Linked DNA regions of Homo sapiens. The protein of the gene in region 1 interacts with the protein of each later gene in a pairwise test. Each region holds a gene or a part of one and is shown in the gene's direction. Other genes may lie near its edges. The genes, in order: ACTR3, BRPF3 and UNG.

Region 1 (7,163 bases):
CATTCACATTGATACCCTTATCTACACACTTTTTTGGTCTGTATTGGAAAGCATTGTAAAATACAGTTGGGGCACATAGATTCCCATTGGTGGCTTGAAAACTAAATAACAGAACTCAAACCTGCTATTAGTGGTGAGAAAAGCATTTTCTTTAAAAGGCATTCACAAACATTTTTTAAAAAAACATTGTAACACTTGTATGATCATCCTAAGGTTTTTTTTTTTCTGGGCGGTGGAAGGGATCGTTTTTTAAATGTGTTTTTTGCTTTTTGTTTTTTTGTTTGTTTGTTTGTTTGTTTTGAGATGGAGTCTTGCCCTGTCGCTGGGCTGGAGTGCAGTGGCACGATCTCGGCTCACTGCAACCTCCACCTCCCAGGTTCAAGCTATTCTCCTGCCTCAGCCTCCCGAGTAGCTGGGACTACAGGCACATGCCACCACACCCAGTTAATTTTTCTCTTTTTAGTAGAGATGGGGTTTCACCATGTTGACCAGGATGGTCTCCATCTCCTGACCTCGTGATCCACCCGCCTCAACCTCCCAAAGTGCTGGGATTACAGGTGTGAGCCACCGCGCCCAGCCTTAAAGGTTTTTTTTAAATGCATGTTTTTACTCAAGTTTCTCCATCATTCAAGCCAAATGAGGGCGCTCCTTATTAACTCCTTGTTATATCGTAGCTTGGTTACAGAGCTGCATTGTGAATTTCCTTTTCCCTTTTATGTCTTTTTTTTTCCCCTGGTAAATAAAATATTGGTAAATTAGTTCCACTGATTATGATAGCAGAGGTTAATATAGCCCTATGGTCAAAGTCTTGGATATATTCATATCTGGAGCAGATTAAGGAATTTTGCTAACTGACTTCAACTTCTTAGCAATCTTAAAATGTAAGCTTAAATATCTTGTAGGTGTCAGTGAAAGAGGAGTATGTTCATCTTGTGGCCACAATTCAGCAATTAGTGCAGATAAGAATGATCTTGTTTGAAGAGCAGTGGGGAAAAGCTGGGTAAATGAAGGAAGGTATATGTGGGAAGTTCATGTTTCTTCCATGAATTCTGTGCGTATTGTTTAATAATAATGCTGTTTCTTTTTTTTTTTTTGAGATGGAGTTTTGCTCTCATCGCCCAGGCTGGAGTGCAGTGGCATGATCTTGGCTCACTGCAACCTCCTTCTGCCTCCTGGGTTCAGGTGATTTTCTGCCTCAGCCTCCCAAGTAGCTGGGATTATAGGCGCCCACTACCACGCCCAGCTAAATTTTGTATTTTTAGTAGAGACAGAGTTTCACCATGTTGGCCAGGCTGTTGTTGAACTCCTGACCTCAGGTGATCCACCCACCTCATCCTCCCAGAGTGCTGGGATTACAGACATGAGCCACTGCACCGGCTTAATAATGCTATTTCTTTAGCCATCTCCAAAGGCAGAAATATTCACAATAGCTTCTTAACCAAAAAGCACTCATTGAAATTCTTATTCCTTGATGAGTCATGCTTTGCATGCTGTTTGAAGTAAGTACAACAGACATGCTCCTAGTGAGAAGTCAGACTCTTACTTAGACTTAGCGAAAGACTCTCCCTCCTTTCCTGCCTGCCAATTTTGTGTTGAAATATTGACTTTGGATTGCAAATACTATATTGCGGTGAACGAACTTTCAGGCTTATTGTAAAACACAGTTCAGAATTTTAGGCACAGAACGGAAAGGTCCTGTGGAGGACCTGCTGGCCATGCTTTCTGTGACAGCTATTTTTTAACCTAATTTTATAAGTGAAAAAACAGAATGAGAGAATTTAAATTACCTTTTTGATGCCGTCTACCTGGCAGGTGGTTCGATCTGCTATTTGGACCTGAGTTCTGTATTTAAGTCCTGTGTTCTTTCTGTTAACACTCCGGGGACTCCTGACTGCCTTTTCAGAACTTTATGTGTTGCTTCATTGTTGTTAGTAAAGTTAACTGTATTTCTGTTTAAAGAACTCTTACAAAAAAAAATCTCAGCCTTATGAATTTGATTCACCTAATTAGAGAAAACCCTCTGTGTAATCTTTACTTGGTTTAGGTTCCCCCCCCCCACCCCCCTGCCGATATGTGAATGCCTAGACTATTTCCTTGTTACTTTGCTTAAATTTAATCTCTAGAAAAAAATTACTCTCTAGGTTGTGTTTCTCAGGAAATAATAATAGCTAGCATTTATCGAGAATTGTATGTCAGCCCCTGTGCTAAATGCTTTATATTATCTCATTAACTTTCACAACAACCTGGAAAGTATTATCTTTGTTTTATAGGCTAGAAAATTTAGTCTTAAGAGAGGTTAAGCTACTTACCCAAGATACTGTAGCAAGTAAGTATGGCAGAGCCACTACACTAGATCTTCCTTCCGTAGAAGATGAACGTTTGACATGGCTTGGTGCATAGTAGGAATTCAAATCTTTGTTGTATGAATGAATGAACAAGAATTAGGAGTATGGTTTTTAAAAAAACTGTGCATCAGAAACACCCCATACCCAGTGACTCAGAATCTCAAGGGTTGGACTATGAATATTCATTTACATAGGCTTCCTAGATGATTCTTCAGCAGCCCATTCAAGGGCTAACTTTGCAGAAATTCTGAAACCTGGTATTGGCGGTGGAGTTGGAGCAGAAGAGATAAGTTAGGAAAAGATTGGTTTTTTCCTTTCTTTTTACGTTTCTTCTGGCAGTTATATTTCGTGTTATTTTATTTACGGGTAGCAAAGGCTTTGTAGTTATCTGTTGTTGAGTTCAAGCTCTATCACTTAATAGCTATATGACTTTATACACTTCAACCTCTGCAGGTCTTATTTCTTCCCATCTGTAATTTGGAGATGATAGTGTATACCTTATAGGTTTTTTTTGTTTGTTTTTGAGACTGGGTCTCTGTTGCCCAAACTGGAGTTCAATGGCAAGATCATGGCTCACTGCATCCTCAAACTCCTATGTTCAAGCTGTCTTCCTGCCTCAGTCCCCCGAGTAGCTGGGACTACAGGCACATGCCACCATGTGTGGCTACTTTTAAAAATTTTTTGTAGAGATGGGGTCTCACTGTGTTGCCTCAGGCTGGTCTCAAACTTCTAGCACAAGTAATCCTCTTGCCCTGACCTCTTAAAGTGTTGAGATTACAGGAGTGAGCCACCATGCCCAGTTTTGTTTTGTTTTGTTCTGTTTTTTGATAATGTGTGAAAATGGTTCAGCACAGTGCCTGGCACACAGTAAGGGCACAATATATTTTAAATATAATAATTGGTTGGCTTTCTTTTTTTTTTGAGTTTCAGTTCTTAAAGAAAGGAATACAGTGTGTTATGCTTATTTTCTTATCTCCTGCAGGCCTTGGCCTGCCTACCACACACAGTTCTCTGCACAGTCAAAATGTTTTTGCTGATTTGAGAGATTGAAGGAGGTATAGCTAGGACTTGGCAGTTGATTCCAGTGGATTGTAAATAGGCATCAATGAATAGTTCAAGATTGTAAGCCTGAGTGATTGGGACAATAAGGGAGTTAGTTTTAAGAAACTGAGTAAAATTGGAATTTGTTGTTGAATTTGGAATGATGATTTATAATTGGAAACATTCTAGAGGAAATTAAAAATACAGGACCTTTGGGAATGAAGGTGGATATTTGGGAATCATAATTTGTTAACTGAAGCTAATAAGATGAGAGCATTCAGAGAGAAAAGAACGGAAAGATTGAATATCAGTTTCCCTTCTTTAAAAAAATTGTGGATATGTGATCTAGCTTCTTGAGCATCACAGTGACTGATTGGCTCGTGGTAATTGATCGCTATGCTGACAATCTTATCTCCACCTATGTCATTCAATTTTCTAAGAGGCAAAATCCTTAATCAGGAGGAGAGTTTAGCTCTAGCTAAATTTCCCTTGTCCAGCATGCTCCTGCTCCCCCAACTTGTGGAAACAGCTAAAGGATTGGACTAGGAGCAGAAGTTTGGAATGGTTAAAATGTAGCAACATGTGTTTCCTGAAACAAAATTCCACTATAATAAAAAAAGCATTTGAATGCTCCCTTGTAATTCTGTTGGAGCTTGTTGCCTTTTTTATGACACAACCATAATCAGTGATAGACAGTAGCATAAAGAAGCAAGAGCAAAGCAATTAAGTAATAATAGCACTACAAAAATGTGTGCTGTAGCTTACCAAACACGACATTTATGAATTATTAGATAGGAGATAAGGTGATGTTATTGGATTGTTTTAAATTTAGTTCTTTGAAATAGGATAGTGACTAATATTAGTTTGTGTGCTGATTTTATAACTTTATATGGGCCTTTATATCAGGAAACAACGTAACCTACATAATTGACTAATACCAGAGCAAAAAAAAGAAAAAAAATTCTAGTTTTTTTAAAGGACGATTTTGCAGAATTTTAATAATAATTTTGTTTCAGAATTTTCAAAATTCTTTCCAAACTGTCGATTTAAACTCAAGCCATTCTTACATACTCCTTGGAACCAGGAAAGGAATAGCTTGAATTTGTGTGGCCAGATGTTATTTTTTTTTTTTTTTTTTTTTTTTTTGAGGCAGAGTGTTGCTCTGTCACCCAGGCTAGAGTGCAGTGGCGTGATCTTGGCTTGCTGAAACCTCCGTCTCCAGGGTTCAAGCTATTCTTCTGCCTCAGCCTCCCGAGTAGCTGGAATTATAGGCACCCGCCACGATGCCTGGCTAATTTTTGTGTTTTTAGTAGAGACCGGGTTTCACCATATTGGCCAGGCTGATATTGAACTCCTGAACTCAAGTGATCCACCCGTCTCGGCCAGATGTATTCTTTCAGCTTTCCTTCTGCTCCCCAACCCTAATACATACCTGAGAAGAATATTCATCTGTTCGGATACTCAACATGCCATGTTTTCCTCCTGCCGAAGGACATTACCTAAACGTTTTATTTTTAAACATTTTGTCCTTGCTTTAAGACTTTGTGTCATTTGTGAAAATGCAATGCTCTTGGGAAGGGTTTCTGTGCTTTTCAGTATTTAGTGTAAAGGAGAGGTTACAATGAGGAGGATAAAAGTCCTAGAGAGAGAATTAGGGTGCAGAAGACCTTGTAGTTTAGGGTTGGCTTAATCTACTGTAAACATGTAAACCATGTTTTTAGTATTAGTGTATGACAGGACACAAGTGTTTGCCTAGTTATAGAGATTATTTTAGTTAAATCTAGTGTGCTTCTGCTATAAGCATTTTTAAAATTCAGTTACTCAAGGGTACAAATATAGCATTTAATGTGTATTTGTGAAACTTGCTTTAGTAAATTAAGGGAAATGCCTAATGACTCACACAGAATTATAGAGCTGAAAAGGGATTTTGAGAGATAATTTAATCCAGTCTTCATTTACAAATGAAACAGAGGCTCAGAGTTGAGAAATGTCTTTTGGGAGTGTTCCTAATTATTAATTGATAGTATTGTTGAGTTCTCTTAAATTTTCTTGTGAGTTCACATTTATGAGTTAATAGTTGAAATTAAGTAATTGGAATAACATAATGTATTTTATTTATAGTTAAAGTAGTTTTAGTTGAAGCCTACATCAGAATTCTTCAGTGTTTCGTTGTAATGCAGAGGCATACTGTATGGCACACATGAGAAACTAATTTTATGTTTCCCAATAATAATGTTTTAAACCAAGTTTAGAGATATTTTAAAAGTTGTGCTCTGTAGGTGCCAGGACAGATGACTTTCATAAAATGAATGCTCTCTTTAAAAAAATTTTTCTTTATGGTTTCAGAGATTTATATCTTTGGATTTTAATTATTAAAGATGTATTAAATGGGATGTGTACCAATCAGCCATTTCAAGGCCCTTTGCACGTTTTGTTTTGGATGTTATTACCTTTTCAGAAGCCCTGTGAGGTAGTTACTGTTATAAATAATCCCATTTCAAAGATAAGTAGTAGATTTAGAATTTTAGTCCTGGGGTAGTCTCATTCCAGAGCTCACTGCTCTACTGTTCCCTAATTGAGATACATCCAAGGAGAGTGGTCAAATTATTAGTCCAGTTTTTAAGAGTGTCCATTTTATACATACTTAAACCCAAAGCTACTAATTTTTAGTACAAATATGAAACATATAGGGAGGTCTTAGTGACCAGTTCACTGATTTGATTAACCTATAACACATTAAAGTGAAATATGGATTTGCTTACTGCTTATTTGAGTATTGCAAGGACTGATAATTGCTGATAAATTCAGGGCAGCTCAAGGAAATGATGCTAATTACATATATCTTCAAAAGGAAGGCATACATATTTCTGAAGCTGCAATTTGAAAATGAATAATCTCCACTGATGCATTACTTACTGTAATTATTTTACTCACTATGTATTATGTGCTCATTAATGACTGCACAAAACACATATGAAAGTAAAAAAATAGAAGAACTTAAAGTAATCAAGTATTTATTTCAGTCTCAGTTCTGTGCTGAACACTATGGTATATACAAGAAAACTAAGGCATGATTTTATACTTGAGGTTTACAGTTTAGTTTCAAAGATGAAACTAATATGTGTGAAATAATTATGGATGGCTTACTAGCATTTAATTGTTTGGGCAGATTAATAAGGGCTGTAGTATTTGGAGGATGATTTATGAAGAAGCTGAACTTGATCAGATCCTTGGAAAAGCATAAATAGGATGTGATAGATATATGGGAAGAAGGACTTCAAATCTAGGATGTGAGCTAAATTGAAAGCTCCATAGTGGCAGGGATTATTTCTTTTTTGTGCATTCTCTATTCAAGTGATAGCGTCCTGCATGATATTTAATAATGCCCAGCAAATATTTTACTGATAAAGGGAAGTCATGAAGGAGTTTCAAAGTATTTGGGGGATGGGTCAGTTAGGAAATTGCCCTGCCTGGAATTCAGATATTTCTGTTGGGAGCTGTGGGACAGCAAGTAGTTTATTTACTCATCTTGCCTTATTTCAGAAGGATTTTAAATGGGGCAGAATGGTTTGCGATTTATTTGATAGACAGTAGTGGATTGTGTAGATCATTAAGCAAAAGAGTGATAAAAGGTAAATTTATGCACTATTAGTCTGGGTCTAGTATTTTACTTTATACAGCTTTATTGAGTTATAATTCACATACTGTAAAGTTTACTCTTTTAAAGTGTGTAATTGAGTAGTTTTTAGTATAGTCACAAGGTTGTGCAACTATTTC
Region 2 (7,839 bases), on another chromosome or scaffold:
TGTTTAGCTCATAGGAACTCCTTTCTATTTTGTAGACTGGATGTTGCCCAGTTCATAAACAGCTAATAAAGCCAATTGGATCTTTGGGACTCATTTGTTGAAATTTTATTCTTTGATACGTTCTTCCTCTTTGCTCATGCGGGTGGCTCAGCCTGGACCACACTCCCTCTACCATCTTTCTAGCTGACACACCTACCTGAGAGCTTTCAGGTAGAGCTCAGATAGCACTTTCTTCACAGAGCCTTCCCTCTTCTCCTAAACAGACGAGCTCACTCCCTCCTCCAAACTTTGGCACTTCGTTTGCATCTCTCTTGAAGTGCTTATATTGTAGCACGTTCCAGTTATAAATACCCTTGCTTTATACTGTGATTAGAATCTAAATGCCTTCAAGTCTGCAAGCATACTCTTTTCACCTTTGTGGCCTTTACAGCCATAAAATAGAACCTTACCAGCAGCTCACAAATAGTAATTGAATAAATATGTATTTCAGTGTGACCAAAAGAGGTTCCAGAGAACTTGAGCTGATTTCATCATTTCTTCAATCCTCAGGTTCCCACCTCCAATAGGAGCTCCCGAGCAACCCTTTGCCACCTCTTAATTTGCAATGATTGTACCAAACTGTGAGAACCTACAAAGTTTGAACTTAGATTCTTCTTCAATCTTCTCCTTTGTTCTTATGTCCAATCAGACAAAACAGTTGCTTTGTCATCTGATTTCTGATTTGACCTTTCCTTTTCCTCTTTCTCTAACACATTTTCCATCATTCTGCTTAATGCCTTTTTATTTTCATAATGCCTAATTACCTATAGTAAACTCTTCCAGGTTTACCGGATCTCCTGTTCTACTTTCTCCAATACATAAAGAGGATAACAGTAACATTTTATAGAGTTAGTAAGTTGATAAATAAGATATGGTGTGCATATTGGACCTAGTTTGTACATGTACCTACTACCCCATTGTACAATCTTCTCCTGCTCATGTCCTCTGGTTTTAGGAGTTGATACATGACAAGCAGCATGTCCCTCTGGCCACAGTTATTGGCTCAGGATGGCTGAGAAATTGCAAGATACAGTATGCTGATGACATAATTCGAGTCCTTTGACTCGATCTTGTCTATAGCTAGATGCACCCCTGGACTTTCTGGTTATGAGAGTTTATTTCCTTTATTAAACTCACTTAAGTTGGTTTTCTGCTAACTGCAACAAAGATCTTTAATAAATGGAGTATATAAAGCACTAAGCACAGTACCTTGTACATAAGTGTTAGGTATTATTTTTATTATCCCTGTCCCCTTGCCATACCTCCTACCCAATTCAATCTTTTTCTTATCATCTGCCCATACATACCAGCTAGGATAATTTCCGCATTATTCCCTGCATATTTTCCCTTTGCCTGGACTGTCCTGTCACCAACCCAATGTCACTTTACACTCTTTTCACCAGTTCACATCCATCATGATTTAGAACTTGGCTTAAAGAAGTCTCCCATTCTCCAAGAAGCCTTCTTTGAATAATGGTGGCTCCATACTCTTCACTGCCTTATCTATTTTTTCTTGTATGTGTTTTCTACTTATTTCTACCATTCTGGATTGCACACTACTCAAGGCAAGAAAAAATATATTCTATCTATACTTATGATCATTAGTCCCTTTCTAGGTTGAGATTTTGTCATTATTTTCCAAAGAACTTGTGCAGTATTAGACACACTCTAAGTGGTCAATGAATACGTTTTAGAAATACATAAATGGAATTAAATCTAGAGAGTGTGGTATGTTACTCTATTTAAGACCTGTTGTTAACCTAGCTAAACTTTTCCCATTTTCCAAGCAAACTTTACATTCTTAAACCATTTTAATTAGTGTAAAAGTATCGGCCGGGCGCGGTGGCTCACGCCTGTAATCCCAGCACTTTGGGAGGCCGAGGCGGGCGGATCACGAGGTCAGGAGATCGAGACCATCCCGGCTAAAACGGTGAAACCCCGTCTCTACTAAAAATACAAAAAATTAGCTGGGCGTAGTGGCGGGCGCCTGTAGTCCCAGCTACTTGGGAGGCTGAGGCAGGAGAATGGCTTGAACCCGGGAGGCGGAGCTTGCAGTGAGCCGAGATCCCGCCACTGCACTCCAGCCTGGGCGACAGAGCAAGACTCCGTCTCAAAAAAAAAAAAAAAAAAAAAAAAAGTATCACAATGATTCCAACCTCAAACATTCCTCCCAACTGTGGTTTCAGAATTCTTTTAGTCAAGTATCTAAGGAAGGAATATTCTATTAAAAATAATTTAACAATCAATCAAGGCCTATTTTTTTCCTTATCATCCACGTTATTAATCCAGTGGGTACTGCGTCTGACCCCTGAGAGGTTTCTTGGCCTGATAAACTAATGACAATAGTGAAGCATTAACAAAGATATCCTGAGATGCTGAAAAAAAGTATGATGGGGAAGTATGAAAGAAAGAGGTGGGGAAATGGTGATTTTTTTTTGTATTCATGTTTCTTTTAGTTTTAAATGGTAAAACCTTCTCCTATCCCAAATAAGTTGGTTTCTACTTACAGCTGGAAGGTTCTTAAAAACAACTATTTGGAATCAAAGATCCATGCCTCTGTTTGTTGAATTTAATTGCTGTATGGTTTATTGGAAAGGCCAGGGGTGGTGAATTTAAACCGTTTAAAATAGCAAACGATTAAAGTGAATTAAATTTAGTGCCTCTGAGATTTTTGATATATGTTCCAAATTTGTTTTTAATAACATAATTGTTCCATGTTACATTTAAGATTCCATCACAGGGAACTGGTTACGTGTGCAGTTATGCTTGTAGAAACCAATTCCAAATGTCAAAAATTAAAGTGAGGGCAACTGTAATGATATCATTAAAAAAGTAGAAGTTGAAAATGGAAGAGAAACACTTAGGTTGAATAAGGTCTTAATATGAAAGCTTTGAATAGAAAAACCTGAAAAAAATCACATGCATTAGGTTGACTTAAGGCCTTTTCAACAGCATTTAAATCGTTGACTTACAAGTAGAAACCAATGCATTTTCTCAAGGTATTTATTCATTCATTTTAGTGGAAAAAGATAGCTCCTGATCACGCAAATGGGAATTGTGCTAAATAAATTTTGAGAACATCCATCAAGAAATAAAAGTTACTAGTCATATGTATAAATGATTATTATATTTCATGTTTTAATAGTTTCTGTTAGTTTTCAGACTTTTTTTTTCTTAACTACAAGTACTGTAATTGCAATATTTTCTTGCCTCTGGGGCTTTCTCTTCCACAATTAATCATCTTTTTCTTCCACACCTTCCCTCCAAATGATTATTCCCCCTAGCTTCAGAACACTTGACATTAATTCATACTATTTCATCTTCACAGCTTTCAAAACATTGTCCTGCCCTTGCTTAGCTCCACGAGCCACCCCCCTTGCATTTAAAAAATTGGTTAACAGAAGCATTTTTGTACTATCTCTTTGCCAGAAGATGCTATTTACTTGGAAACAAATTAGCTTCCTTAATCAAACTTTTGAATTTGAAACTCTCTATATTTAAATTCCTTAGTATAACATCTATACTTCCAAAGTAGCAGTATGTTCACTTTAAACATTCAGAAAATTTGGATCCTAAGACTTTATCCTTCATCCTTCTGACTCTAGAATACATGTCCTTGATCATCAGAACCAAGAAAGAAATTGAGTCTCACCAGCTACACCACAAGTGCCAGCAGAGGAAACACTTTCAAACTGTCACTCACCTTCACATTTACAGGCAGCTTATCCATACGTCCTTTATAAACATCATTATGTATTGGTGCTTAAGACTTCAGTCACATGAGGTAAGCTTTCCAGTTTACAGGCAAAAGGGGGTGGCAATGGAGCCCTTTTCTTTATTTTTTTGTTTTTTTAGATCAAAACAAAAGCCAGTTTGGTCTGATGCTGCCATTTGTCAAGCATCTTTTAGAAAGCCGCCTAATGCATTAAATTAACCAAGTCAGGTTTAAAGTGTTTCCCATGCCCACAGTGACAGACGAGTTACCAGGCATGCTTAAGCAGACTGTCAAACTTTTGTTTACTCCTTTTAAACGGAAAGTCAGATTTTTTTTTTTTTTTTTTAAAAGATGTGTGGTGCGGAACAAGACGCTCACCTGTACACAACAAAGGCAGGTCTTTCCCGGCTGTCCTCACTGGGGGAGGGGATGGACAATCGCTAGACCTTTGTCCTCAGGTCCTGGGCATGGGGGTTAGGGGAGACGCGACTTTCTGGGAGTCGTGCAGGCACCTGCAGTCAAGAAACTACATATTGGTTTTGACCTCAATGACTGCCCTGGCTTAACCTTTGGAGAGGCCCTTTAGTTCGGGGAGGGGGCTTGCTGCTCCAAACCGTAGCCACGTCACCCACAAGGACTGGGGAGGAAATGACTGACCGCTCAAGAGTCAGGGACCCCTGTCTCTCCCAACTAGACCCGAACGTCCACAGCCCTCTTATCGGGCTCGCCCCGTGGCGGGCAGGGCCGTGGTGCGCAGGGATCGCGGCGGGCGCAGACCCGGTCTCTTGCTCGGTGTCCCCGCCGCGCCCGCACCGCCACCGTGAGGCCGAGCCGGGGATGGTGCCCCGTGGCGGCGGCGGCGGCGCCTCCGCGCTCCTCTCCGCACCGCCCCGGCCGCCGCCGCGCCAGGCACGGGCGGGGGGATTTTTTTCCCGTTTCCCCCTCTTTCGCGCTCTCGCTCCTGTTCAGCGGGAGAGCCCGCAGAGTCAGGGAGGGAGCGAGGGAAGGGGTGGAGGTGGCGGGGGGAGGCCGGAGGGGCGGATCCTGCCTGGGGGCTGATCCCTCCCTCCCCTCGGCCGGGCTCCGTGGCGGCAGCGGCAGCAGCGGCGGCTCCATTCCCCCTCCTCCCCCGGGAGCGGCGGCGGCGGCCGGGCCGGGGCCCCAGCGCGGGCCGGGAGGGGGCACGGCGGAGGCCACGGAGGCAGGCGCGGGAGAAGACCGCGCTCCGCTTCCCGGGCCGCGCCGACCTGCTCGGCGGCCTGCCCGCCCGCGCCCAGGGGCCCCGAACGGTGGGGCCGGGCAGGCGGCTGAGGTAATGGGGGCGGCAGCGGGGCCGGACAGAGCGGGGGCGGGGGCATCGGGGCCTTCGGGGACCAGGGACTGCACGGGGGGAAACCGGAGAAGCGGGGGGCTTTCCGAGCAGGGCGGGGGCGGTGCGAAAGCTCTCTCCTGGAGCGAGGGCGGCGGCAGGGAAGGAGAAGGCGGGTGAGCGGGGGAGCTGAGAAGCGAGGACCCCCTCCCGCAGCCGCCATCTTGTCTCCCCCCCCAGCCCTGGATTCCGAGCCGCTAAGCCCCGCCCCCGCCACGCCTTCCAATTGGCCTGGCCAGACGAGAGTCCCGCCCCTTGAGCGGCCCTAGGTCCCCTGGGTCCCTCTGACGGGCAGGTGACGCAGCCAATGGGTTCTCGCCTCTCCGCCCCGCTCATTCGCTGGCGCTCGCTTTCTCTGTCTGAGGGTCGGACTCCACGTCAGGCTGTCTCTGGTGCGCTCGCCCCTCCCCTCTGAGGAGATGTTATTTCCCTCCTTTCTTCTCCGAGGGGTCAAGATTCTTCTGGAAGAGGTGCCCCCTTAAAGGAGCAGGAGCCTTGGCTGGGGTCCTCCTTGTCTCCTGAGTATCTTGTGTGAGGTGCAGGGGATACAGTCTAATTGCAGAAGCTCCTCATTCTTCGGGGACCTGGATGGGGTGGGTGAGCGAGGGGTCAGGGGGTGCCGAGGGGAAATCTGGGGGGGCGGGGGTTGTTGGAGATATTTTGGAGGTGTGTATGTGGGAAGGGCTGTGTAGGTTGAGAAACTCCCGCCAAAAAACTCGTCTAGACTGTAAGCTCCTTGTGGGCGAAACTCTTTTCATTTCCCTCATCAGCAGTCCCTTCCCCCTCTAGAGTTTCTCCCCGGTGTCTGGAGGCGTGGGTGGGACAAAACACGTCTGTGTAGAGTCTTGCATGGTCGAGAGATGCTTGAGCAGCCGAGGAGGTGGCAGGTGGGGAAGGAGAAGATGGAGCGGCTTTCATGAAAGTGGGCGCCGCACCGCCTGTCTGCGCTGTTTGGGGTCGGTGTGGAGGCAGATGTTCTCACCTCTTCTAGGGCCTCGGTGCCTTTGGAGGGGTGGGTGATGAAGCAGGTCTGTTGGCCCTGTCTGCCCCCAGGGACTTGGCATTTGTAAGGAATCCAGTAGCCAAGGGCCTCTGGAACCCGGACAGAATTGCTGCGATGATTCTGTTTCCTTTGGCTCCAAATGGGGTGTGTGCCAGCCCGCCTGGCACTGCTCCTCAGCCAAATTGGTTTTTTGTTTGTTTCAGTCACACTTTGGGATTGGAAGGCCTTTCAAGTAAAGATGTTAATAATACCTTATTAACAAGTAGCACCTAGAGAGCTAGATTGTGTTACCCTCATTTTACTGATGGAGTATGGAGGCATAGAGAGCTTAAGGGACTTTCTCTAGGTCACAGAGGGCCAAGATTAGAACCTAGATTGCCCCAGAGCCTCGTTTTGTACCAGACCATAGCACCTCTGTGGTGTTCTTAATTCCCACTGAGAGGAATTGAGCATCGGAAGACCTGGGTTCAAATTGTAGCGTTATCACTTACTAGCTTTACGTTGAGTGACATCTTTCTGAGCTTCTGTGTAGATGATAATAGCTACACCATCTCCTAAGGTAGTTGTGAGAAATATTAAAAGTAAGAGGGCTTTGTAGTTTGGAAAAAGTGCTTTTATTATCACCGTCTCTACTTTATATAGATGGTAGACCCTGCAACCAAGGCGATGAATTGTTTTTCTCTTTGAAATCTTCTCTTTGTTCATATCCTTCCAAGTCTGCCCACACCATGGGGCCCTGTATCCCCAAAGGTCTCTCCTGGTGGTGACAGCCTTGGTAACTGCCTACCGCAGCTCCTTATGAGCTTGTCATCCAGAGAATGATGGGGGAAACTAGGACTTTCTCTTGGCTGTACAAGGATAGACTAGATATGAGTGTTCTGGGAGAGACTTTTGAGGTAACAGAATGCATTGAGAGTTTACCTCAGATACTGCCCAGATCATCTTGGCCTTCGGTCGAATGAAGGTCCTAGACAGGCCACTATAACTTCAGAGATCTCTTGGAGCCACTCTCAGAGCTTCTAGGGTTTGTTTCTGCCTGGAAATGTACTAGTTGGTGTATCCTGGATCAGGGGTTCCCAACCCCCAGGCCGCAGACTGTGGCCTGTTAAGAACCAGGCCATACAGCAAGAGGTGAGTGGCGGGCAAGCGAGCATTACCACCTGAGCTCTGCCTCCTGTCAGATCAGCGGCTGCTTTGGATTCTCATAGGAGCGCGAACCCTACTGTGAACTGCGCATGTGAGGGATCTAGGTTGCATGCTCCTTATGAGAATCTGACTAATGCCTGATGATCTGAGGTGGAACAGTGTTCACCACCCACCCTCATCTGTGGAAAAATTGTCTTCCACGAAACCAGTCCCTGGTGCCAAAAAGGCTGGGGACTGCTGTCCTGGATGGTGTCTTTTGTAGGGAATACCCTGCATACTGTAGTTTGAAGCCCTTAGACCATGTATCATAGATATTTCAGATGCCTTCACCCCTTCACCTCTAGGCAGGGTCAAGGAGTAGGGTTTCTGATCGTGGTAAGAGGTATTGGGAGAAGACTCTAGTGACTTTTGATCCTCTGATGGGGCCCATTGTTCACGTACAGAGCTTGACAGTGGATGCTTTTCTTGTTTTCTTTTCTAAACCGTTAACTACATGTGTTTTCCATAGTTAGCTGTCGCCCAGCTTTATGTACATCATTAGAACATTAGATCTTTCCCCATGTTACA
Region 3 (4,059 bases), on another chromosome or scaffold:
CGTGATCTCAGTTCACTGCAGCCTCCCCCTCCTGGGTTCAAGTGATTCTCCTGCCTCAGCCTCCTGAGTAGCTGGGATTACAGGCATGTACCACCACATCCAGCTAATTTTGTATTTTTAGTAGAGACGGAGTTTCTTCATGTTGGTCAGGCTGGTCTTGAACTCCTGACCTCAGGTGATCCACCTACCTCAGCCTCCCAAAGTGCTGGGATTACAGGTGTGAGCCACCACGCCCGGCCAACTATTCCATTTTTGTGGCGAGATTTTTTTGTTTTTGTTTTTGTTTTTTAATTCTTCCTTCTTAGGAGCTGTAAGACTATTCAGAGAGTTCAGAAAGGCACAAAATGGAAAGTAAATGGCTTCCACTCTTTCTCTTAAAGGAACTACTAAATACAGTGTCTTGGGTATTTTTCTAAAGTTTTTAAAAAATGAAATTATTTTGCATTTTGTTCACTTGGTAAATTTTGGAGGTCATCTCATCAGTATATTTATCTTTCGCATGTTTTTCTAGGAGTTATGTGGTTTTACATTGTAAGAACTTTAGAAAAATACATTTAGCCAGTTCTGTAACACTGAATTGTATACTAGGTTTTAGCTGACATAAGCAGTGTGTCAGTCCCTTTATATGTACCTATTTGTGTAGGTACAACTGGTCCCTGGCTTATGAAGTTTGACCTGATTTTTTTCGACTTTACAATGGTGTATAACCATACTTTGAGCACTCACACGTTGTTTTTTTTTCTTTCTTTAAGAGACAGGGTCTCTTGGCTGGGAGCAGTGGCTCACGCCTGTAATCCCAACACTTTGAGAGGCCAGGGTGGCGGATCACTTGAGCTCAGGGGTTTGAGAACAGCCTGGGCAACATAGTGAGACCTTGTCTCTAAAAAACACAAAAAATTAGCCTGGTGTAGTGGCACGCACCTGTGGTCCCAGGTACTCAGGAGGCTGAGGTGGGAGAGTAACTTGAGCCTAGGAGGTGGAGGCTACAGTGGGCCACAGTCATGCCACTACACTCTAGCCTGGGTGACAGAGTAAGACCCCATCTCAAAAAATAAAAAATTAAAAAAAAAGATCTTGCTCTGTCACCCAGGCTGGAGTGCAGTGGCACAATTATAGCTTTTTGCAGCCTCGAACTCCTGGGCTCAAGTGATCCTGCCACCTCAGTCTTCTGTGTAGCTAGGACTGCAGGTGCATGCCATCACACTTGGCTAACTTTTTAATTTTTTTGTAGAGATGGGGTCTCGCTATGTTGCCTCAGTTGGTTGTAAACTCTTGGTCCCATGCAGTTGTCCTACCTTGGCCTCCCAAAGCACTGGGATTACAGGTGTAAGCCACCGTGACTGGCCCCGTTCTATTTTTCACTTTCAGTACAGTGTTCAATGAGTTACATGAGGTACTAAACACTTCATTGTAAAAGAAGCTTTGTTTTGCCCAGCTGTAGGCTAATGTAGGTGTTCTGAGCATGTTTAAGGTAGGGTAGGTTAAGCTATGATGTTCAGCAGGTTATATGTCATAAATATATCTTCAACTTAGGATATTTTCTACTTAGGATGGGTTTTCCAAGATGTTAACCCCATCCATTGTGTTAATAAGTTGAGGAGTTTATCTGTGTGTGTATGCATCATGGTGTCCTTTAGCAAATACAGTCTTAGCAGTGGAAATTGCTGGCAGTATGATAGGGACACTTGAAAATTGCATAGATAATTGCCAACTTGAAGGCAGAGGGTGGTGCTCTTTGCATCTCAGAGCCTAGCAAAGGTAGGTAGTTGCTCAACAAACGGACTAATGTTCTAATGCAAATGCTGAATGCTCCACTTTGGAAGGGGGAGAATTTAGAGGGCAAAGGGGAATCGCACAGGGTCTTAAAGTGCAACAGCCACAGTCCTTCCTTTTTGGGGAAAAAAAAAAAAAGTCCCGGCCGGGCATGGTGGTTCACGCCTGTAATCCCAGCACTTTGGGGAGGCCAAGGCGAGCGGATCACGAGGTCAAGAGATCGAGACCATCCTGGCCAATATGATGAAACCCCATCTCTACTAAAAATACAAAAATTAGCTGGGTGTGGTGGCACGCGCCTGTAGTCCCAGCTACTTGGGAAGCTGAGGCAGGAGAATCGCTTGAACCCGGGAGGCGGAGGTTGCAGTGAGTCGAGATCACGCCACTGCAGCAAGACTCTGTCTCAAAAAAAAAAAAAAAAAATTTAAAAAGTCCCAAATCTGCCACCATTTATTCTTGATCTTTTTCAGAAGCGGCACCATGTACTACAGACGGCTCATCCCTCCCCTTTGTCAGTGTATAGAGGGTTCTTTGGATGTAGACACTTTTCAAAGACCAATGAGCTGCTGCAGAAGTCTGGCAAGAAGCCCATTGACTGGAAGGAGCTGTGATCATCAGCTGAGGGGTGGCCTTTGAGAAGCTGCTGTTAACGTATTTGCCAGTTACGAAGTTCCACTGAAAATTTTCCTATTAATTCTTAAGTACTCTGCATAAGGGGGAAAAGCTTCCAGAAAGCAGCCATGAACCAGGCTGTCCAGGAATGGCAGCTGTATCCAACCACAAACAACAAAGGCTACCCTTTGACCAAATGTCTTTCTCTGCAACATGGCTTCGGCCTAAAATATGCAGAAGACAGATGAGGTCAAATACTCAGTTGGCTCTCTTTATCTCCCTTGCCTTTATGGTGAAACAGGGGAGATGTGCACCTTTCAGGCACAGCCCTAGTTTGGCGCCTGCTGCTCCTTGGTTTTGCCTGGTTAGACTTTCAGTGACAGATGTTGGGGTGTTTTTGCTTAGAAAGGTCCCCTTGTCTCAGCCTTGCAGGGCAGGCATGCCAGTCTCTGCCAGTTCCACTGCCCCCTTGATCTTTGAAGGAGTCCTCAGGCCCCTCGCAGCATAAGGATGTTTTGCAACTTTCCAGAATCTGGCCCAGAAATTAGGGCTCAATTTCCTGATTGTAGTAGAGGTTAAGATTGCTGTGAGCTTTATCAGATAAGAGACCGAGAGAAGTAAGCTGGGTCTTGTTATTCCTTGGGTGTTGGTGGAATAAGCAGTGGAATTTGAACAAGGAAGAGGAGAAAAGGGAATTTTGTCTTTATGGGGTGGGGTGATTTTCTCCTAGGGTTATGTCCAGTTGGGGTTTTTAAGGCAGCACAGACTGCCAAGTACTGTTTTTTTTAACCGACTGAAATCACTTTGGGATATTTTTTCCTGCAACACTGGAAAGTTTTAGTTTTTTAAGAAGTACTCATGCAGATATATATATATATATTTTTCCCAGTCCTTTTTTTAAGAGACGGTCTTTATTGGGTCTGCACCTCCATCCTTGATCTTGTTAGCAATGCTGTTTTTGCTGTTAGTCGGGTTAGAGTTGGCTCTACGCGAGGTTTGTTAATAAAAGTTTGTTAAAAGTTTGTTTTGTGCAAGTGTCCTTTGTGCGTCCAGGCCAGGGCATCCATGGACGTCCTTGGGCTGCCCTTTCCCTTGGCGCCTCCCAGGGTTCCCATAGCAACCACCGTCTGCAGGAGGGGCCGCCCTTGCCCCTCCTCCCCGCCCTGCCGCTCAGTGGAACGGCCCAACCCTCCCCTGGCTGCGGTGAGCGCTGGGCCCAACCCCCGGCCTGGAGCAGCGCCCCAACTCCGAGCACCGTGGAGCACCGGCTGCCAGCTGAGACCCCAGAGGGGTAACTAACGGCCTGAGGAAGGCATTTCTTCGGGGAACATGGCGTGCCCGTCGTGGCTACGTTCTGCCAAGCCCTGTGACGTTGGAGGGGAGCCGCCTGCATCCCCCGCTCAGCCAGTGTTTCTAGACTCCGAGACATCTGGAACTCGGAAGTGAGGCCAGGGCTCCAGGAAGACTCCCTGATGACGCACTGGCCCGCAGCCCAGGCTCAGGTAGTGGGGGCTGTCAGGATGATCTGTGGGATCCCCCAGTGTCCGAAGAAAGAAGCCACAATTGTGTTTTTTTTTCTTTCTTTCTTTTTCTTTTTTTTTTTTTGAGCGAGTCTCACTCTGTCGCTCAGGCTGAAGTACAGTGGCGCGATCTCGGCTCACTGCAACCTCTGCC

Evidence for each region.
Region 2: the proteins of ACTR3 (region 1) and BRPF3 interact in binary tests that used the Homo sapiens proteins (3 or more experiments, as listed by UniProt).
Region 3: the proteins of ACTR3 (region 1) and UNG interact in binary tests that used the Homo sapiens proteins (3 or more experiments, as listed by UniProt).

Annotation. Positions count from the first base shown.
Region 1 is NC_000002.12:113,893,013-113,900,175, forward strand, and holds part of ACTR3 (actin-related protein 3), read left to right. Parts: intron 1-7,163. UniProt on the Homo sapiens protein: ATP-binding component of the Arp2/3 complex, a multiprotein complex that mediates actin polymerization upon stimulation by nucleation-promoting factor (NPF).
Region 2 is NC_000006.12:36,191,905-36,199,743, forward strand, and holds the start of BRPF3 (bromodomain and PHD finger-containing protein 3), read left to right. Parts: upstream 1-4,839; 5' UTR 4,840-5,066; exon of another isoform or gene 5,067-5,299; intron 5,300-5,480; exon of another isoform or gene 5,481-5,515; intron 5,516-7,839. UniProt on the Homo sapiens protein: Scaffold subunit of various histone acetyltransferase (HAT) complexes, such as the MOZ/MORF and HBO1 complexes, which have a histone H3 acetyltransferase activity.
Region 3 is NC_000012.12:109,107,586-109,111,644, forward strand, and holds the end of UNG (uracil-DNA glycosylase), read left to right. Parts: intron 1-2,243; coding exon 2,244-2,384; 3' UTR 2,385-3,407; downstream 3,408-4,059. UniProt on the Homo sapiens protein: Uracil-DNA glycosylase that hydrolyzes the N-glycosidic bond between uracil and deoxyribose in single- and double-stranded DNA (ssDNA and dsDNA) to release a free uracil residue and form an abasic (apurinic/apyrimidinic; AP) site.